Linked DNA regions of Homo sapiens: all the other regions are linked to region 1. The links come from fine-mapping of genetic effects on gene expression. A gene starts in region 1. Each other region holds a variant in brackets. All regions are shown on one strand. Distances are from middle to middle. Region 1 holds the start of CDKN1C (cyclin dependent kinase inhibitor 1C). Region 2 overlaps KCNQ1 (potassium voltage-gated channel subfamily Q member 1). Region 3 overlaps KCNQ1 (potassium voltage-gated channel subfamily Q member 1). Region 4 overlaps KCNQ1 (potassium voltage-gated channel subfamily Q member 1). Region 5 overlaps KCNQ1 (potassium voltage-gated channel subfamily Q member 1).

What was found.
Region 2: its variant is fine-mapped to the expression of CDKN1C in whole blood (TOPMed, PIP above 0.99).
Region 3: its variant is fine-mapped to the expression of CDKN1C in whole blood (TOPMed, PIP above 0.99). The same link has a PIP of 0.9 or more in blood mononuclear cells.
Region 4: its variant is fine-mapped to the expression of CDKN1C in whole blood (TOPMed, PIP above 0.99).
Region 5: its variant is fine-mapped to the expression of CDKN1C in tibial nerve (GTEx, PIP above 0.99).

Annotation. Positions count from the first base shown.
Region 1 is chr11:2,883,720-2,887,831 of GRCh38, reverse strand. It overlaps CDKN1C (cyclin dependent kinase inhibitor 1C), which reads left to right and starts at 2,057. Exons shown (of 4, transcript NM_001122630.2): 1 at 2,057-2,198; 2 at 2,366-3,162; 3 at 3,698-3,833; 4 at 3,917-4,112. The coding sequence starts at 2,376. The coding sequence ends at 3,828. SLC67A1-AS (SLC67A1 antisense RNA) reads left to right here. Exons shown (of 3, transcript NR_169305.1): 3 at 1-488. RefSeq lists enhancers at 560-1,395, 1,396-2,231, 2,232-3,067.
Region 2 is chr11:2,557,090-2,561,201 of GRCh38, reverse strand. All of the region lies in intron 2 of KCNQ1 (potassium voltage-gated channel subfamily Q member 1), which reads right to left. Among named protein-coding and RNA genes, the nearest start is that of KCNQ1, 110 kb to the right of the region's middle. RefSeq lists an enhancer at 1-331. The variant G/A (reference allele first, on the strand shown) is at 2,279.
Region 3 is chr11:2,835,551-2,839,662 of GRCh38, reverse strand. All of the region lies in intron 15 of KCNQ1 (potassium voltage-gated channel subfamily Q member 1), which reads right to left. Among named protein-coding and RNA genes, the nearest start is that of KCNQ1-AS1, 24 kb to the left of the region's middle. RefSeq lists enhancers at 2,960-3,826, 3,827-4,112. The variant G/A (reference allele first, on the strand shown) is at 2,257.
Region 4 is chr11:2,810,448-2,814,559 of GRCh38, reverse strand. The region is part of intron 15 of KCNQ1 (potassium voltage-gated channel subfamily Q member 1); the gene reads right to left. Among named protein-coding and RNA genes, the nearest start is that of KCNQ1-AS1, 49 kb to the left of the region's middle. RefSeq lists enhancers at 1,763-2,526, 2,527-3,289. The variant G/A (reference allele first, on the strand shown) is at 1,724.
Region 5 is chr11:2,729,006-2,733,117 of GRCh38, reverse strand. All of the region lies in intron 11 of KCNQ1 (potassium voltage-gated channel subfamily Q member 1), which reads right to left. Among named protein-coding and RNA genes, the nearest start is that of KCNQ1OT1, 31 kb to the right of the region's middle. RefSeq lists an enhancer at 1,201-1,370. The variant C/T (reference allele first, on the strand shown) is at 1,755.

The DNA of each region.
Region 1 (4,112 bases):
TAATTAAGCTGGTAAAGTGGAAAAATAAAAGTAGGAAACCTAAGTGGAAACCAAACCAGAAAGCCAGGCAGCCCGGGAGTTCTGAGCCCTGCTTCCTTCCAGCTGTGCGGCCTCAGCGGCTGACGCGGTCTCTGCTGCTCTTCTATAACACAGGATGATGGCAGCTACACCCTCTGAGTGGTGTCACCAAGGCCAATGAGTCCTGATGGTTGGAGTGTGGGTATCCGGGGGCCTCTAGGTCACTACCCACTCTAGCCCTTTGCTCCTAGTCTCTGGGGAGGTGGCAGCATAGGGGCATGGAGCAGACTAGACTTTGCCTCTTTCTGCCCCCAGGCCAGTTGATATGAGCCCTGCTTGAGGGGTTCGCAGGGCCTGGGGAGCCTTCTTCAGCTTCTCTTTGTTTTCCTAAGATGAAAATTGTGACATCTGGGCTTGTTGCGGGAAATTTGTAAATTGTGCACAGAGAAGAATATGAAATTGCACATAAATCATGGCTTTTGGTTCCACCATCAAGAGCCAAGAATGGCCCTGGCCCCTCTCCTGGGTTAACGCCCTGTCCCATCCAGTTCACCCCCCTCACTTCAGATCTCGCTTCCCTGAGACCCAGAAGACCCGCCCTGCTCCCCCAGCTGCAGCTGCACACTGCCACAGCATTCCATGGGGGTGGGGGTGTCTTGGGACTCAAAGGCAGGCTGGTTGGGGTTCAGGGGACCGCACCTTCCCTCCCTCCCAGAGGTCTCTCTGCTGGCTCACAGGCTCACCTGAGATAGGGGCTTAGATCTCATGGGCTGCTGGACCCTCCAACAGGTGTCTGACAGTCCCCATCCCGATCTGGGAGGCTCCTGGTTTGAGGAGGGGGCTCCCTGCCTCATGGTAGGTGGGCCAAAAGGGAGGCAGCAGGAAATAATGGTCTCTTTTGGTCTGGCCTGGCTGGGGTGAAGCACCGTGTGTGTGCGTGCGTGTGTGTGTGTGTGTGTGTGTGCGTGCGCGCACGACCGAGGTCTGTACCAGGAAGGGCTGCAGGCGGGGGAGGGGCATGGTCCTTCACAGCCCCTTCCCCTATGACCTCGGGCAGATCTTTCACTTTTACCCAGTACAACAGCTTCCAGCCAGCCTGGACAGGCAGATCCCGGGGCTGGAGTGGTCTGGCCCAAGGCTGAGAAGGGCTGGGACCCCCGACAGTGACATGATGGGCTCAGCCCCTGTTCCATCTACTGGGCAGGGTGGGCCTCCGCAGATAGCGGCTTCAGACTCCAGCTCCAGGGGGCTGGTGGGAGTCTCTCAAGGTGTCCCACACATGGTCCCTCGGGGAAAGAGTGGAGCTGACCCCTGTCCCCCCTCCCGACTCGAGGGCCTTAGGGCCAGCAGGTGTGTGAGGGCTCCAGGCGCGCGGAGCCCTCGAAGGGACACCAGCCCAGCAGCAGCAGGCCGCGCGGGGGCAGCCGAAGACCCCATCCGGCGCAGGCCAGGGCCGAGCTGGCAGCGGCGGGTCCAAGCCTCGTCAGCTGGCGCAGGAGGCCCACGGGCGAGCGCGGGACGGAGCTGGGCGCCGGGGTCCGGACCGGGCCGGGGTCGAGTTGGGCCTGGCCGGACACCGGACCCGCCAGGAGCCGGCCCCTGCCGCGCTGGGCTGAGGCCCCCGCCTGCAGACAAAGGAGCCGGCGGGGGGCGGGAGCCGGGGGGGTGGGGGAGTGTTGCAGGGGGGATGGGGCGAGGGGGCGGGCGTCGCGGTGTCACGTTACCGCCCGCAGCGCCCTTTAACTCCCGCCCCCGCCCCGCTCACCGCCCCCTTCCCCTGCTACAGCGCGCTCGCCCCGCGGCCGCCAATCAGCCGCGCGCCCCGGCCGCGCGCCCCGCCCCGCCCCCGGTGGGTGTGCGCGCGGCCAATGGGCGGTGCGCGGGGGCCGGGCCGCGGCGGGGCGGGGCAGCGGGGCGGCCGCCAATCGCCGTGGTGTTGTTGAAACTGAAAATACTACATTATGCTAATCGCGGCCGGGCCCGCGCGCACGGGGGTGGGGCCCGCGCGTATAAAGGGGGCGCAGGCGGGCTGGGCGTTCCACAGGCCAAGTGCGCTGTGCTCGAGGGGTGCCGGCCAGGCCTGAGCGAGCGAGCTAGCCAGCAGGCATCGAGGGGGCGCGGCTGCCGTCCGGACGAGACAGGCGAACCCGACGCAGAAGAGTCCACCACCGGACAGCCAGGTAGCCGCCGCGTCCCTCGCACACGCAGAGTCGGGCGGCGCGGGGTCTCCCTTGCGCCCGGCCTCCGCCCTCTCCTCCTCTCCTTTCCCCTTCTTCTCGCTGTCCTCTCCTCTCTCGCTGCCCGCGTTTGCGCAGCCCCGGGCCATGTCCGACGCGTCCCTCCGCAGCACATCCACGATGGAGCGTCTTGTCGCCCGTGGGACCTTCCCAGTACTAGTGCGCACCAGCGCCTGCCGCAGCCTCTTCGGGCCGGTGGACCACGAGGAGCTGAGCCGCGAGCTGCAGGCCCGCCTGGCCGAGCTGAACGCCGAGGACCAGAACCGCTGGGATTACGACTTCCAGCAGGACATGCCGCTGCGGGGCCCTGGACGCCTGCAGTGGACCGAAGTGGACAGCGACTCGGTGCCCGCGTTCTACCGCGAGACGGTGCAGGTGGGGCGCTGCCGCCTGCTGCTGGCGCCGCGGCCCGTCGCGGTCGCGGTGGCTGTCAGCCCGCCCCTCGAGCCGGCCGCTGAGTCCCTCGACGGCCTCGAGGAGGCGCCGGAGCAGCTGCCTAGTGTCCCGGTCCCGGCCCCGGCGTCCACCCCGCCCCCAGTCCCGGTCCTGGCTCCAGCCCCGGCCCCGGCTCCGGCTCCGGTCGCGGCTCCGGTCGCGGCTCCGGTCGCGGTCGCGGTCCTGGCCCCGGCCCCGGCCCCGGCTCCGGCTCCGGCTCCGGCCCCGGCTCCAGTCGCGGCCCCGGCCCCAGCCCCGGCCCCGGCCCCGGCCCCGGCCCCCGCCCCGGCCCCGGCCCCGGACGCGGCGCCTCAAGAGAGCGCCGAGCAGGGCGCGAACCAGGGGCAGCGCGGCCAGGAGCCTCTCGCTGACCAGCTGCACTCGGGGATTTCGGGACGTCCCGCGGCCGGCACCGCGGCCGCCAGCGCCAACGGCGCGGCGATCAAGAAGCTGTCCGGGCCTCTGATCTCCGGTGAGCCCCGCACGGCCCCGCCCCGGCCCGGCCCGGCCCCGCTTTGTCCGGCCGGCCGGTCCCCCCAGCCCTCGGGGGCCTCGCTGGGTTCCCGCCTCCTCCCGTGGCATTAAAGGGCCCGCAGCGCTCAGGGCGCGGCTGCGCCCTTACCCCCCTCCCCGCCCCGTTGTTGTGCCCTCCAGCGGCTTCGCGCGGGCGGGGTGGGAGGCTGAATCCCGGCCGCGACCCCCCGGGAGCGCAGTTTTCGCCCCCGGCCGCGGGAGCCCCTCCCCGGGCGCGGCCGGGCGCCGTGAGCACGGCGTGGAGGGGGTTAAGCGCGGCGGCGGCCCCGGGGGGCTTGGCCGCGGGACAAGGGGAAATGCTTACACAGCACATTGCGCGGCGACGTAAACAAAGCTGACCCGCCGCGGACCTCGGCGCGGGCGGGGACGGCGCCCCCACCCCGGCCGGCCCGCGCCCCGCGCCCTCTCCCGGCCCCCTCTCGGGTCTCCGGGCCGGCCCCGCCCTGACCGGCCGCGCGCGCTGTCGCCCGCAGATTTCTTCGCCAAGCGCAAGAGATCAGCGCCTGAGAAGTCGTCGGGCGATGTCCCCGCGCCGTGTCCCTCTCCAAGCGCCGCCCCTGGCGTGGGCTCGGTGGAGCAGACCCCGCGCAAGAGGCTGCGGTGAGCCAAGTGAGTACAGCGCACCTGGGGGGGCGCGGAGGGCCGACCCGCCGGGTCCCCGCCGGCTTTGCTGACCGCCCCTCTCCTCGCAGTTTAGAGCCCAAAGAGCCCCGAGGGAACCTGCCGGGGCAGCGGACGTTGGAAGGGCGCTGGGCCTCGGCTGGGACCGTTCATGTAGCAGCAACCGGCGGCGGCTGCCGCAGAGCAGCGTTCGGTTTTGTTTTTAAATTTTGAAAACTGTGCAATGTATTAATAACGTCTTTTTATATCTAAATGTATTCTGCACGA
Region 2 (4,112 bases), 330 kb after region 1:
TGAGACGGAGTCTCGCTGTCGCCCAGGCTGGAGTGCAGTGGCGCAATCTCGGCTCACTGCAGGCTCCACCCCCTGGGGTTCACACCATTCTACTGCCTCAGCCTCCCGAGTAGCTGGGACTACAGGCGCCCGCCACCTCGCCCGGCTAATTTTTTGTATTTTTAGTAGAGACGGGGTTTCACCGTGTTAGCCAGGATGGTCTCGATCTCCTGACCTCGTGATCCGCCCGCCTCGGCCTCCCAAAGTGCTGGGATTACAGGCCTGGGAGTTCCTATCTGTCCTGCAGGGCACCGCGCAGCCTCACTCTCCCTGCAGTGAAGCCCTCCCCCATCCACTGCTGCCTCTGCTGGGATCCCTCCTTTCCTCCACGTCTGTCCTCATCCCACCCAGAGCGCCCTAAAGTCAGGGGCCCGCCTTCTCCACCTGCAAGCTCAGTGCTGAGACCAGCTCACTACCCACCTTGTGCCCAAAATCCTGCTGAGAAACTTCAGGCAGGGGACAGGTGTGTCTCCCTCCCAGGCACCTGCCTTGTGGGTGCTGTACTTGGGGTGTGGAAGGGGAGGCTGAGGGGCCCGTAAAGACCTGAAGACCCCCACTCTGGACATCATCCCCCATGTTTGGGATGTTACTGTCTCCCCCAGGATGGACGTCACCCCCCCCCGCCCCCCCAGAAGGAACATCACCTTCCCCCGTCCCCCAAGGATGAACATCACCCGCCCCCAGGATGGACGTCACCCCCCGTCCCCCCAGGATGGACATCCCCCACCGTCCCCCCAGGATGGACGTCACCCCCCAGTCCCAGGATGGACGCCACCCCCCAGTACCCCCAAGATGGATGTCACCCCCCCCATTCCCCCAGGATGGACGTCACCCCCCTGTTCCCTCAGGATGGACGTCACCGCCCCCACTCCCCCAGGATGGACGTCACCGCCCCCACTCCCCCAGGATGGACGTCACCCCCCCATCCCCCAAGGATGGACGTCACGCCTCCGTCCCCCCAGGATGGATGTCACCCCTCCCCAGGATGGACATCACCCCCCTCATTCCCCTGGGCTGGACATCTCCCCCCCATGTCTGAGATGCTAACCCCCTCCTGACCGGATGTCACGGCCCCCCATGGCTGAGATGCTGCTATCTGTCCCCAGGCTGGCGGTACCCCCTCCCCCGTGTTTGGGACGCTGCCTCTCCCCACAGGGCACCTCTGGAGCTCCTCCTGGTCTGGCTGCCCCTCTCTGAAGTCACTGGAACACTCTGGGGGTCCTGGCCCTGCAGGAAGACACACCCAGGAAACCAGCGGAAGCCACACACCAGGCCCCACCCTGACTTCCCATGGGACCCCAGAGACAGAGAGGGAGGAAGGAGCCCCTGCCCAGGAAGCAGGCAGCAGAGCCCTAGCCACAGGCCTTCCCACAGCTGGCGGCCATCTCTGACCTTCAGAGCTGCAATCGGCCAGCTGCTCTGTGTGCTTGTCTCCCCGTTAATGATTTCGGGGTGACTCTGGGAGGCACGAGGCCGCTTTCCCTCCAGAACTAGCCCCACCTGCCAGCTGCCCGGACGTGTCTTCTTCCTGGTGAGCGAGAGAGGCAAGGGACTTGCTGGGTCGTCATGGGGATGGCCGTTCCCATCCACCGGGCAGCCGGGCCCTGCAAGTGGGTGACAGCTGTCGTCTGGTCCCCACATCCCGGACACCATCCTGACAGGCGGCATGAGGCCCAGTGTCCCCTGTGGGCTGTCTGGGGAGACTCTCAGGAGGCTAAAACCACAGGGGCTGGCCCTCCCCCTGCCCCGGGCTCTACGTCTAAGTAGCCACAAGGGCACATCCCGGGGTGTCAACAAGATCCAGGGCTTTCCTGATCCTCCCTGTGCCTGCGTCTACCCCTGGCCTAAGGGGAGCCATGTTCACACATTTCTCTACGACCCTCCAGGCCCCAGGACTGATTCCATAAGGCCTTGGGTGTCGAATGCATCCTCTCCACGGGCTTCCCGGGAAGCACCTCTGGGAAGACTGCCTGGTAGGCTTTCAGAGAGCAACGAAAGTGCAATATTTTGCTCAAGGGACACTCCTTGAGCAAAACCTCCCTGCAGGCCAAGGCTCAAGTGACCCCTCTTGCTGAGCCGGTGCCTCCAGCCCCACCTTGCCCCTTGTCCGTAGCTCTGGGAGTAACTGCAAACTCTTGACATTTGTCACTCAGGTACCTCACCTGGGTCTGAGCAGGAGGTGCTCAAGGCAGCTGGCCCCATGTGTGGGTGTAGTGGGGGAGGCTTCTCAGGGTGGAGG[G/A]GTTAGCTAAGAAAGGAACTTGGACCACACCCTGGGCCTAGCACATTCTTGGGCCCATTATCATTGGGGCCAAATCTTTCCCAGGACTGCCGGCTTCCGGGCCTTGGCCTCCCCATGAAGGCTGCCCACCCATGGAGGGGAGGAGAGTGGGGCCTCTCAGTAATTTTAATTTCACATGTACTGCCGGTGCCTTACGGGGGCCGACTAGAGTTACACACGTTTCAGGCGGTTTAATGAGGTGCCTCCAGCCCTGGGACCCAGCTCGCTGCGCAAGCCGGCGGGGTGGGGGTTCCCGAAGCGCGGCCCACTTCCTCCCCCACCTGGGTGTTCTCAAGGTCAGGAGGCGGACACAGGGCGCAGCAGCCACCTGACACCTGCCTGGGGTGGGAGAGGCAGATGGCGCTAGGCAGAGTGCCCACAGGCTGGCCCATCTAGTCTCTGCTCCGAACTGGGCTTATCAGCAGATTCTGATGAAGCAAAAACTATGTGGACCCCCCCGCCTGGAGACCCCCAGCACACTGAATCAACCCATCACCTGGCAAGGGGTGAGAACCCAGGACGCACTGAATAAACACGTATGCTTACACAGTGTGCAAGGCACATACTTCATTACTTTCAGGCAATAGATGAATTTCAATCCACGTGGGGGACAACATTTGCAAACACAGTGAAGCCACCAGCAAGCGATGTGGGCACTGGCATGGAATTTACAAAATAAAAGCATCTACAGTTGGTGCTGGGGGGCAGCTGGAGTGATGTAGGGGCTGGGGCAGGCAGCGGGGCCTACGTCTCATAACGCCCTACAGGGCCCGCACTTCCCACATCAATCTCTTCTTTCTGGCTATTTAGGAGAGTGTTGTTTAATTCCCAAATAGGTAAGGGATTTTTCTTCCCCAATCTTTTAATCATTTATTTCTCATGATATTGGGTTTTGATCAGAGAACATGGCCAGTTAAATCTCAATTTTTTGAGGTAGGTTAGATTTGTTTGTAGCCACATGAATGATTGGTTTTGTAAGTGTTCCGCAGACATAAGGGAACAAAACAACTCCATTACTAGGGTTCGAAGTGATAGTGCTGGTTTTAAAGCACAGTCCTATGAAGTTCTTTGCCAGTCCTCCCCAACTGAACCTGGGCTCTGTGACACCTGCATCAGGAGAATACAGCCAGGTGGCTCTCAGTCCCTGGCACTGCCTGTCTCCTGGACTGTTCATTTCTGAGATGTGAGGAATCCATGCAGCCTTGGAGAAGCCCTCATGAACAGGAGCCTTACCAGCCATGTAGATGCAATGCTGTGGAGGCTCCAGCCCCAGCTGATACTATGCAGAGGGGAGATGAGCCGTCCCACTGAGCCCTGCCAGACTGTAGGCTAGCGAGCTCAGGCGTGATGCGTATTTTGAAGGTGCTAGATTTGTGGATGGTTTGTTACATGGCTATAGATAACAAGAACAGGAGTTATTTCAAATTACTGTTAGAATCTGAAATTGCTCATGATTACAACATTTACCTGTCCATGTCCTCACTTATTTTGTGCCCACTAGAACTGTCCTATTCCAAAAGAGGTACATTAAAATCTCCTCCCGTTATCATATTTAACCTTCCTGTCCTTGCAGATTTTCAATAGTTTTTGCTTTATGTATTTTATGTTGTATGATGCCTTAAAGATTACAGTCAGGTCTTCTAATAGTGCCTGATCTCATTCACACTTGTCTTGTTTGGGCTTCAGTGTTGATATTCATCCTGATCTCCCTGTTTTTTCTCTCCTTTTCTTCTTTTAGCTTGCAGTTTCTTGGCCTCTCTTTGGCCATTCCTTTATTTTTCAACCACCCATTATT
Region 3 (4,112 bases), 48 kb after region 1:
CCCTGCTGCCTTCCCTCCCCCAGCTGGCTCCAGCCACCAGAGCCTCCCTTCCTCTTCCTCTCGGCCCGCACGCCTTCCTGGATTCTCCCTCGGCTCAGCCCTCACCTCGTCATAGCCCCCAGGGGGTCTATGTGTGCCGTGTCTGCTGACATGAGCCGGTGCCACATGGCCCCGTGCTCCTGGACACGCAGCCACCTCCCTCCCTGCATCTGGGTTGGGGCTGACGTTTGTGCCAGAGCCAGAGCTGTCACATCCACAGCCTCACAGACCTGCAGAGGCTGCTCCGTGCGGACATTCATGTCAACTTCAGGGTGGGGACAGAGGTCATGGAGGGAGTCAGTGGCAGAGCCAGGGGGGCCCACGTGGCACAACACTCCCTGGGTGGCACTGGAGCCCCTTTGCCCTCTTCCCTTGGAAGGGGCCTGGGCAGGAGGCCCAGGTGCACCCAGAGGCCAGGGAGCTGCCTCACTGCCAGGCAGGTGGGAGGGGGTGGGGAAGCCCCAGGCTGGGATGGGGTCTCGAGCCTCCCCCAAGGGCTGGCCTATCCCTAGCCCGGCCTCAGGAGCTTCCTGCCGGCAGACGCCAGGCAGGGGCGGCTCTGTCCAAGAGCCCGAGGCAGCTGCCCACCTGCCCACCTGCCCACCTGCCCACCTAGTGCAACCCCGGGCAGGGCTCGTCCCATCGGCCTCTGTTTGGGGGCCAGGCGGGCAGGAACGTCGGGCAGGCTGGGGGCCCAGGAGCCGTGTTTGTGCTGGCGGTGGGCACAGGCCCCACCTGCATTTGATTCTCTGCCGCTGCCTCCTGAGCTGCCCCCTCTGGCGAGCCCGCAGAGGCCCGGAGGCCAGGGGACACCAGGCAGAACACTTTGTTCGGGCAGCCAGCGAGCGCTCTGCTGCCTCAGCCAAACCCCAGCCCGGCCACGGGGGCAGGTGGGCAGGGGAAGCCAGGGCTGCCTGGCCGTTCTCGTGTCATTGCTCCAGGTCTGCCCACATCGGCCCTGCTGCCCCCACATCCTCCCCTACCCTGGGCCCTCAGCCACTTGCTGGGCCATCTGGAACCTCTGAGCGCACCAGCCCCTAGGACCCCAGCAATACCCCTCGCTGTCCCCGGAAGTCCACAAGCAGACCTTAGATACTTCCTCTCGCCTCCCTTCCCCAGCCCAGCAGGGTGGCCCCATACCACTGGAAGTCAGACCCCTGTCAGTCATAGGCTCTAACCCTCAGTGGCTCCGGATCAATGCCAGAGTCCGCTCACAACCCTGTGGTCTGGCCCAGCCCCCATCCCTGGCCTCACTCTGCAGCCTGCTTCCCGGCGCGCCGGTCCCTGGCCCCCAGCCCCAAGCCTGCTTCCTTCTTTCTGCATGCCGTTTCACACTCCTCCAGGTGCCTGACGGGCATGTGGATAGTTTGGCACCTGTCCCCCGACCCTGCCAGTGGCTGTGAGCCACGTGAGGTCAGTCTGGCTTCCTTCCATCCCCACCTCTGTCTGCCTGGTCCCTACTGGTGGTGTTTGCTTCTCAGAAGTAGGTCCCCTTCCTGAAACTGCCCTTGGCGTGCAGCAGGTATACCCTAAATATTCCTGAATTTGGGACGGGACGTTTCTGGGCTGGCTTCCTCAGTCTGTCCCACGTTGCCACCATTTTTCTCTAAGACAGAGGCCTCTGGGGCCCATGACCCCCTCTCCTTCCTGCAGACAGAGAAAGCACCGGCACCTGCTGATCTCCCACACCACAATGTCCACTTGCTGGGCGAGAACCTTTGAGGCATCCCTGCTGTTCTCGAGATACCAGCCTCGGCTGAGGGTCCCTCGCCGCCGGCCCCTGTGGCCCCCTGGGCGCCGCCCTTCTCGCCCCAGAGCCGGTTTCCTCTGGTTCCTACCTCAGGACCCTCACATGGGCTGGCCCTGCCTCCTGGAGCATCCACCCCTCTCCTTAGCCTCCAGACCCTTCTCATTCTCCAGGCCCCAGGTGAGGGTCTCCTTGGTGAGGCCCCCTCCCTTCCCCCTCCTGGTTTGGCTGTGGCCACTTCCCCTGCTTTCCATCCCCCACCTCTGTCTGCCCGGTTCCTGCTGGTGGTGTGTGCTTCTTAGAGGCCGCCTCCCCGAGGGCAGGGCACTGCACAGCCAACAACAGTTCAATGGCCTCTTGCTCGCTGGGAGACCCTGGGCCTTGGTCACCTCTCGAGCAGGGAGGGGCCGGGGAGTCTGTTCTGTGGCACAGTGCAGCCTGGGGGCTCAGGCCCGGGCGTGTCTGGGAAC[G/A]GAGGCTGTGAGCGCGGAGCGGGCTCTCCTGGGCCCCAGGCCACTCCCTGGGCCTGAAGGGAGGGGCTCAGGGGAAGGATGAGGCCCCTCGTCCCCAGCTCCCTGGGCACCACTGAGAGGCCTCTGGCCACCTCCGTCCCTCAACATTGGCCACGCCCACAGCCTGCTGTGTTCTGTCTCCACCCAGGCCTCTCCCCGGGCGCTCTTGGCTGTCCCTGCTGGCTCAAGACGGTGTCCTCTCTCTGGACACTCGAGAGGCTGCCCAGGGTGCTCCCAAACACGCACACCATGTGAGCCTCTTCCTCCGCCCTACGTGCCCCATCCTGCCCATCCCCAGGAGAGGGCTGCCATGCCCCGTGCCCCCAGCCCACGGGCTCTCTGCGGCTGGGGTGCTTGTCTTCCTGAACCCTTTCTGTGAACGCCTCACATGTTTGCTTCAAAATTAGTCTGTGTACAGGGTTTTTCATGGTATAAGTACCCTATGAAGACGTTCTCCCGCCAAATAAAGACATTTCAAAGACACATCTCCATTTCACCTGCCCCATTTCCCTCTAGGGCCCCTGCCTGCCAGGTAACCAGCTTAGGGATCTGATGTTTCTCCTTCCAGCAACTTTGATACGCAGCTCGTGCCTGGTTCTGCCTGGTCAGCGAGGTTTAGCACGAGTGAGGCGAGGCGTGATGTGACACACATGTGGCTCTCCACTGCTTGTTTCCATGCGACACACTTGTGGAGGCTGCACGTAGAATCACGGGGACAGTGCTGGCTCCTGGGACGGCTGTGCAGCCCTCCTTTCTGTGGGGATTGCTGACATCACCACCCAGTCCCTGCTGGTGGGCGTGGAGGCTGAGGGCTCCACAGGCCAAGTCTTTCTGCCTACATGTGCTGGTGTTCGGGGGGAGGGGTCCCCTCTTCTGGGGAGCTTGGTGGCAGCAGCCAGGCTGTGCTCTCCCACCTCCTCCCCTTGGAGTGCAGTCCGGCCTCACCCTCTACCTCCTGGGTGAAAACTTCTACCTCCGGCCTGAAACGTCACCATGCCTCCCCACAGACAGACGGATGGACAGATGGGCCTCCCTGCACCTGCTCTGTGGGTGTGGGGGCTCCTGCTCAGCAGCAGTTTCCAGACCCTTCTCCCTGCTTTCCCCAAGCCACCCGCCTTGAATCTGGGGTGCTCTACCAGACCCATCCCCTCATTTCTAAAGATTTGAGCCACTAGTCGTGTCCCTCTCCCTCAGAAATGCCTTGGTGACACTTGGCTGCTTTCAACTCTTCCACCCATCTGCCTCTTGGTCTCATCTTTACCTTCTGCTAAAGGTCCTGACCCCCACCCCCGCCACGCCACGGGGCACCCCATGGTGGTGCGTCCTTGGGAGCAGCTCTGTCCCTTTCCCCGTGGCCTTTGCCCCGCCTCCTATGACTTCGATTCCCACCTGTCCCCGACCCCTGGGACCACTGACCGGGCCCGATCACCCTGTCACTGCCCTGTCATCTGCTTACCCCACACGGTGCTCTGCTGACCCAGGTCTTGCTGTCTCCCAACAGCCCCACGAGGCTTCCCGTCGCTCCTGGACACTGCAGGCTGAGCCCGCTGCCCCGCCGCCTCCATGAGGAAGGCTTTTCCTCTGTGAGCCCCAGGCCACCCTTTCCCTCCTTTAAGTAATTACTTAAGTCCCTTGCCAGGGCCCTCCCAGTACCCTTTCTAAAGACACCCCTGCCCCAGCATGCTGCAGGCTCCTGCTCCACTTTCCTCTCAGGCCCTCGTCGCTGTGGTGCTGCCTTTGTTTTCTGTCTCTGCCACGGCAGGGGGTCAGCTCCTTGGAGGTGGGGCTTCTGCCCTTGCTGTACCACTGCCTGGCAC
Region 4 (4,112 bases), 73 kb after region 1:
CATCATTTCTCCATCAGCTCACCCACCCAGCCGTCTCTTTATCCAGCCTTCCCTTCCCTCCATCTCCCCATCCATCCATTCATTCACCACTCATCCATCCATCCACCCACCCATCTCTTCATTTCCCCATCCATCCATCCACCCACCCACCATCCTTTTATTCAGCTCTCCTTCCCTCCATTTATCTATCCACCTCTTTATCCATTCATCCATCTCTCCACCCACCCACACACCCATCGATCCATCCATCCATCTATCCATCCATCCATCCATCCATCCCACCATCCATCCATCCTTTATTCAGCCCTCCTTCCCTCTATCTCTGCATTTATCCATCCACCTCTATCCATTCATGCATCTCTCCATCTACCCCCCCACTCAACCATCTATCCATCCATTCACCCACCTACCCATTCATCCATCCATTATCCACCCATCCCTTTATTCATCCCTCCTTCCCTCCATCTCTCCATTCATCCATCCACCTCTTTAACCATTCATCCATCTCTCCATCCACATACCCACACACCCATCCATCCATCATCCATCCATCCATCCATTTCTTTATTCAGCCCTCCTTCCCTCCATCTCTCTATTCATCCTTTCACCTCTTTATCCATTCATCTATCTCTTCATCCATCTAACCATCCATCCATCAACCATCCTTCCACGCATCCCTTTCTGCAACCCTCCCTCCCTGCAGCTCCCCGTCCATCTACCTACTCATCCGCCACTCACTCACACTCATTAATGCTCCCCACACCCCAGGCCTATGTGCCCGCCCTCATTCTTTCCACAAGCAGTGAGCAGCTGCCTCCTGTGTATCTTGCGGCAACAAGATCAAAAGGCACTGATGACGCAGTCACTGGCCTCCGGAGTGACAGCCCACCACCGACTAAAAATAGACCAGGATCAGCCGAGATGTTGGTCCTCCCCTCTGTTCCTTCTCTCATCCTTTGAGTCCCTGCCCCCTCGACAGAGGACATACTCCATGTGGCTGAATGGCTCCAGATCAAGGAGGGGACCATAGAGACAGGGGCTGGAGGTGTTGTCAGGACTTGGTGACCAGGCGCAGGGTTGAGGAAGGGGGAGAGTCATGAAAAGATGGCGGGGGAGGGGCATTTGCTCTAAGCACTGACGGGCAGGCGGGTTTGGGGGTGAAAAAGAGGTGCAGGTCTCCACCCCTGTGAGAGTGGGGAGCCCAGGTTCCCTGAATGGAGGTGCATGAGGACACAGGGCAGATGCCCTTGAATGAGCCCTGGGCATCAGAGGGCCTGCTGGCATCCTGAGGCCATCAGTGACCTCCATAAGCTACTCCAGGCACCTTGGGGCTGGGATGGAACTCCCTCCAGCTCTGCCAGCCCCTCAGTTTGACAGGTGACTCATGGTGCCAAGAGGAAGACAGGGCTCACAGTCTGTCGGGTTCTTCCTCTGTACCAGGCTCCGTTCTAGGCACAGGGTTCTCACAGGAGAGATGGTGCTGGCCAGCTCTGTCTTCTCAGAGCTTCTGTTCCAGCTGGAGAGCCAGGCCACAGCCTCCAGGCACAGGCACAGGCTGGGGCAGTAATGAGGGATTGGAGGCTGGGGCAGAGACCTGAGGCCATGAGGGGGCAGCTTTGCAGCCAGGAGAGGGCAGGTGCCAACAGCAGACTTCAGATGGTTTGAGGGCTGGCCATGGCACAACCCCAGGGTGCCACTCACACAGGCACAGAGGCCTTGAGGC[G/A]GAAGCCCCCAGGAGGCTGGGTGGAGTCAGGAAGGGGATGTTGCAAGGGCAGGCATGGGGCCCCGGGGGCGTGGGGCCTCGGGGGCGTGGGGCCCACGGCCATGGAAGGGTGCCTGGATTGCTTCCTAGGGAAGAGGGAGGCCATGGGGGGCTTGAGCAGGCAGTGCTGTGGTCTGGTTTATGTTTTAAAGTCCCTCTGGCTGCTGCATGGAGACAGGAATGTAGGGGGAGAGAGAAAGCCGGGAGCCCCTGGGGACGGGGCTGGCCCTCCTCTCCGGGAAGGAGCTCTGCCTTCATACATGCTGTTCCCGCCTCCCGGAAATGCCCTTCCGGCCCCGGCAGAGGCTGCAGTAGGAAGATCAGGGGCCACAGAGCCGGCCGGGCAGGCTGTGATGCAAATGTGTCCCCCATCATTTTCAACTGGAGCCCCCGAGCACTGCCAGGGTGGGGGAGGGAACGGAACCCTCCTCGGCGTCCCAGGTCTCAGGGAGGAAGGAGAGAAGGAAGCAGAGAGGGAGGGAAGGAGGGAAGGGGGAAAGAAGGAAGGAGAGAGAAGGAGGGAGGGGAGGACTTTGAGGAGGGACTCAGGCTTTTCATGTATGTGAGTTGACACATTTCCTTCTTAGACAAGTTTCAGGGGTGTTTCTGTTCCTTGAAACAGAAAGTTTGTGTGGGGACCAGCCGTCTGGGAGTGCATGGCCAAAGCTGGGGTCTGGGGGTCAGTGCAGGGAGCATGGGTGCCTGGGAGGCTTCCTGAGGAGGCGGCGGCTTAGAGAACCATGAGGGCTGGGCTGAGGGGTGGCCGGCGGTGCCAGGAGGACAGGAACGAGAGGCGGCACAGCCGGTGGGGCTGCGTGCCAGGGCGTGGGGTCTGCCTGGGGCAGGGCCTGAGCATGCCCCTGTGAGGACTGTCCCACTGTCATCCTGCGGCGGGCACTCGGGAGCTCAGGAAACTGTAGAACGGGAATGTGTTGCTCACTGAGCACCGTTTTCCAGGCTTGAGCCTGCAGGAAGCCTGGCTTTCGCCGGCCCCTCCTCTTTGGTGGTCTCCACCCATCCCAGCCACCGTTGCTCAGCTCCCAGGCCCACTGCTGCACCGTCTCCCACGCAGCCCCCCACACTGACCTCCTCCAGCCAGGGGTCTGCTGACCCTTGTGCTGCGCGCCCACTGGGACATCCCCATCCTGAATGTGCAGCCCTAGACCGCAGCCCAGAAGGAGGACGATCACAGAAGGTGGCTGCCAGCCACCCTGACGCTCGGCAAGGGCCCCGCCTGGGCTTGTCAGACCAAGCAGGGCCCTGTGTTCACCTTCTGTCCCCTCATGCGGCCTTTAGGGCAGTGAACCTCAAGAAGGTCTCCAGCGGCACAGACACAGGCACAGCCTCATGCGTGCAGGCCCATGGACTTGGCAGCCATTGCTCAAGTGACCCAGACACTGGCTCAGGAGAACGTTCTGCTGCCTTCACAAAGCACTGATAAGGGTGGAGGAGCTGTGTTTGCAGAGATGATTCCCCACCCCAGGAGGTCACAGGCTAGGACCAGTTGCGATAAGGGAAATCTGGGTTGTAACAGGGACAATGAGCCAGGGAAGCCGGACAGGGGTCGTGGGGACGGATTCCCACCAGGGGCTTCCTGGGGGAGGCTCCATTTGGATTGGGGTAGCTGTACAGGGGTGTGACAGGCTCCAGACAGGACACGGCACTGCGGAGGTGCACAGCCTGAGGGTGAAGGGACGCTAGGGTCCACGCCCACCCGGGTCTCGCCGGGGCTGTAAGGGTGCCAAGACTGGGCGGGGGTGAGTCTAAGCCATCTGCTGCTCTGAATGCCATGCTGGGAAGGCGGGAGTCCTTGTGGAGGCACACATCAGGCCCACAGCACCAAGACGATGGGAAGGGGCTGAGCATGAGGTCCATGTCCTGTCCCTCTGCCACAGCAGAGCGTCCTACAGGTGGGACTCCCGGCTGCCAGCCCTGTACCTCGAGCCCAAGCTCTCAGATGCAGCAGCCTCAGAGCTCTAACATATGGGGTTCCTCAGTGTAATGACAGGCACCTCCCCCAGTCATTGTCAACACATCCTAAATGCCAGCAGGCCCATCCATGCACAGATCCCGAGCAAACATTGAAAAACATTCAGAACATGAGAGAGAGGGGCCTGGCTGGCCAAACATAAACAGAAGATCAAGGAATTAAGCAGAACTTAAGATATAAGATGTATCTGGAGTCTCCAGAAAGATCCTAGGAGCTGTCGTGCCCATCAAATGAGGGCGGAATGCCATGACCACGGTCAGAGAGCAAGCGTGTGCTCTGGGATATTAAAAACAGGACTGCTAAAAACATTTCCTAGAACTCTGAAGAGATAAAGTTAAGAATATAATGCCATAAAAAAGG
Region 5 (4,112 bases), 150 kb after region 1:
AGGCTGGGTGATGCCTCCTATTTTACAGAGGGGGAAACTGAGGCTCCAGAAGGTAAGGGGCTGGCTCCAGGTGGAGGATGGGCTCAGGTGTGGCTGTGTCCCAGACCCCCTCTTCCCAGGACCCTGGCTGGCTTGCTGCCTGTGGGTGGTCACCAGCCCCCAGCAGGAGCCTCGAGTTTCTGGGCCTCCAGAGGGTGGGTGGGACCAGAGCCACCCCTGCCTCAGGCAAGATGGGGCTGGGGCCCATGGGGCAGGGGAGACCGCCAGGGCAGGGGTCCCCTCCCTGGGCCCCAGTGGGTGGGACAGAGGCCCCCAGGCTCCGGCTGCAAGGCGAGGCCTCGGTGGCGGCCACAATAAATATGTTTGTTCAAGGGAAGCCAGGCTGGGAGCTGTGTGCGCCGGCCCGGTGAGGAAGAAAAGGCCGCTTGTGCCTTGCACACTGGGGCGATTGTTCCTGCTCACGCAACTGCTGCCCCGTGGCCGGAAAGGTCAGACGGCCCTCGGGCCCCGTCGGAAGCACCGGTGCCTCGGGCCCCTTCGCTCGCGCCTGCTGTAACATTCGCCTGCGCTCCTCACTGCCCGGCTGCATCCACATCACCTCCAGGCCTTGGCACGGGGAGAGAAGGTACCAGGCAAGGTCTGAAAGATGGCCCAGCAAAGGCGAGGGAAGAAACGAAGCCAGGAGTCCCCTGCCCAGCCCAGGCGTCAGGAATAGTGTGGAAAGAGGAGGCCCCAGCTGGTGGCCTCAGCACCCTGAGGGAGTGGCTCTGGCCCCGAGGGTCTTCGCAGTGCCCACGGGGCAGCTTGTTTTGTGGACTATTGTTTGGATATTGGGGGATGCCAAGGTGAGGGTTGGGGAGAGGCCCAGGAGCACATGAGAGGTGCCAGCAATGCTCCTGAGGCAAGACCAAGCATCGTCCTCACCCACCAAACAGAAGGCTGAGAGGCACTGCCTGGCCGCAGCCCCGCTTCAGAGCAAATGGAGTCGACAGAGGCCACCACGCAGGCACTCCTGGCTCTCCCACAATTTAAAAACCCTAAAGGGCAAAAATCAGGAACTCAAGCCTGGTTTCCTCCCATTCCTCTGAAGGGGGAGGAAGGAACACAGGAGCCCACGGCTTGCAGGCCACACCTCGCTGGTCCCCTGCTGGCAAGGCGGCCTCCCTCTCCTCTCCTCTCTGCAGGAGACAGCTCTGTGAGATGGCTTCATCCAAAGGGCCCTCAGAATTGTGGTCCTGATGGTGAAGGCTGTGAGCAGCCGCTGCAGTGGTGTGATCAGACGCTCTAGCTGAGTGAGTTACCCACCACTGTCTTCCACCCGGAAGAGCTGGGAGATGGGGCCATAGGAGCCTCCTGGGTGGCTGGCAGAGGGGACAGGGACTCTGGACCAGCCCTCCCCTCCCTTGCTTCAGGCGCCTTTCTCTGGGCCTCAGGCCCTCCTGTGTGCGCTGCTGGGGGTGATTCTAGGAACCTGATCTCCATGACCACAGGGTCCCCCAAAAGATGGGTCTGTTCCGGAGGGCTTGCCTCAAGCAGCGAAGGGGACTCTGACATGGGAGGAAAGCCCTCTCCTGGGTGAGAACCTGGAGCCGCACCTCCTGTCCCGAGAGATGGCCGCCCTGGGTGTCCGCCTTCCCTGTGTCCGGTGCCCGAGTGGGCGTGTGGTGGGCGGCCTGCAGTGCTGGCTCCCTTTCCCAGGCCTCTCCCGCTGACACACAGCCGGAATGTGCCAGACTCACCAAGGCCTGAATTCC[C/T]GAGGGGTCTGGCATGCCGACTGTGGGACGAGGGCATTTGGGCATTGTTCTCTCCATGCAACAGTGGGGTGCATGGGCGGTGAGGCCCCTTGGATTCCGCCTGCCACCCTTGGCTTTATGAAGCTGCACCAGGTCTGACTCAGGCCTTGAGGAATTCAGCACCCCCTCGAGTGGGCACAGGGGACTGTACCTAGGGGCTGCCTCCCTCTGCCAGGCTGGGCAACGCAGCCCCTGCCGTGAACAGAGGTGCCTGGCTGCCCTCTCTTTCCCCCAGGTCCCTGAGGACCTTTGGGTCCAAGGTTGAGCTGTGAGGCCAAAGGAAGTGTTTGCTCCCAATGCAGGGCAACAAGGGCCTTCCTTTTCTATGAGCAAAGCTGGGCTCCCAGAGAGCGGCGGCTGGGAGGAGGCTGGGCCGGGGCTCTCATTTCTGTAGTTGGTTCAGCTGGGGGCAGCCTCTGGTCCATCTGGCCTGGTGCCCAGCCCTGCTTCTGGCCACAGCCACAGAGGCCTGCCACCAAAACGGCTCCAGCGTCTGTCCCCCATCCCTCCATTCTTCCCTCCTCTGCCCTTCGAAACCACCATTACTGAAGAACCCTGCGTCTCCCAGGGGCAGCCCCTCTTGGACCACCTGCAGCAGTTCATACCATAATCCGCCTCCCCCAGGGTAATGGGGCCTGGATAGGGAGACTCTGTGGCCATACAGGTCTCACCTCTGCACTGGATGCCTAGGGACAAAGTCCACCTGCCTCCTGGGGCCTCCCAGGCCCCCTGCAGTCTGTCTCTGCCAGACCCCACCACGCTGCTATTGACCGGCTCCTCCAGATCACCCCTGCACTCCCCATAAGAGAAAGAGGGAGGAAGGGAGGTTGTGAAGAGCGCAGGACAGAAGCAGAGACAAGGGGGCCGTGGGGAAAGGCCACAAGCCAAGGGAGGTGGGGCCTCCCTTTGAGCTTCCAGTGGGAACCAGCTCTGCTGGCTCCTTGAATGTAGCCCATGTCGGACATCTGACCTCCAGAGCTGTTAGATAATAAACGTGTCACTTAAAGCCACTAAGTTTGTGGGAATTCATTACAGCAGCCGTAAGAAGCTAAAATGGTCCCTCTCAAAACAGTCCTGAATCTACTACTTCCTCCTCGCCCTCCTGGTCCAGCTGCCATCCTCCGCCTGGACTAGTGCAGTGGCCTCCCTCCTGGTCTGCCAGGTCTGTCCCAGCCCCTCAGTGGTCCATTCTTGGCTCTGCAGCCAGAGTGACCCTGTTGCCATCTGCGCCAACCACACCGCACTCGGGGCCAGCCAGGGCTTCACGTGTCCTAGCTCTCGGGGTCCCAGCACATGGGTCTCCTTGCTGTCCTGCCAGCCTGTGGGCCCATCCCCACTTCAGGGCCTTTGCTGTGGCTGTACCCTCTCTCCACAATGCTCTTAGCCCTGACACCATGAGATTCACCTCGCTTTGGGGACACTGTAAGGTCCTCCACGACCCCATCCACAACAGGCCCCTTCCCCAAACCAGCCCTGCCTGTCTTTGTTTTCCCTTCCAAGCACTCTGTAGATAAATACTAAAGTGCAGCTGTCCCTCAGCACCCATGGGGACCTCCCGCAGGTACCCAAATCCACAGGTACTCAAGCCCCCGATACGAAATGGTGTGATACTGACATGGAGGCCACATACATCCTCCCATCTCCAGACCACTTACGATACCTAACAACACAAATGCTGCGTGACCCACTCTATTGTTTAGGGAATAACGACAAGACAAAAAGCCTGTACAAGTTCAGATGTTCAGCACAGATGCAACTTTCTTTCCAAACATTTTCCATCCACAGTTGGTTGAATCCATGGATGCAGAGCCCTTATACGTCTCCCATTGGTGGACATCCCTTTGGAATTTCGTATCAGTTTTGTATTGTCACTGCTGTCCCTGGCACCTGGAGCAGGCATTCAGTATTTGTGGAGTAAATGCCAACACATCTCACTTTAAGGACTTCACTATCTTCTTTCATTTAATCCACCTGGCAGTGCTACAATGTGGGGACTTTATTACCCCCATTGTATAGGTGTGGGCACCGAGGCACAGAGATTTGTCACGTCCAGGGCAGTCACTCGAGCCCGCAGCATGGCCTTAGCCCTGTGGCAGGGGGCTCAAGGGAGAAAGAGCTAGGCCAGACCAGCCCTTGCCCCTAGGCCTTGCTAAGCAGCTTCTCGGCAACAGGTCTGGACCCTCGGCCCCGGGAGAGCCCAGCTCATGGGTTCCTGGCCCGAGCGCCCTTTGTGCCCGCCTGGGGCAGGCGGGGGGTGGGAGTGTGCTACATAAACGGGCTATTGTTCTGTGACTACAGTTGCCAGCCCTGCATGCACAA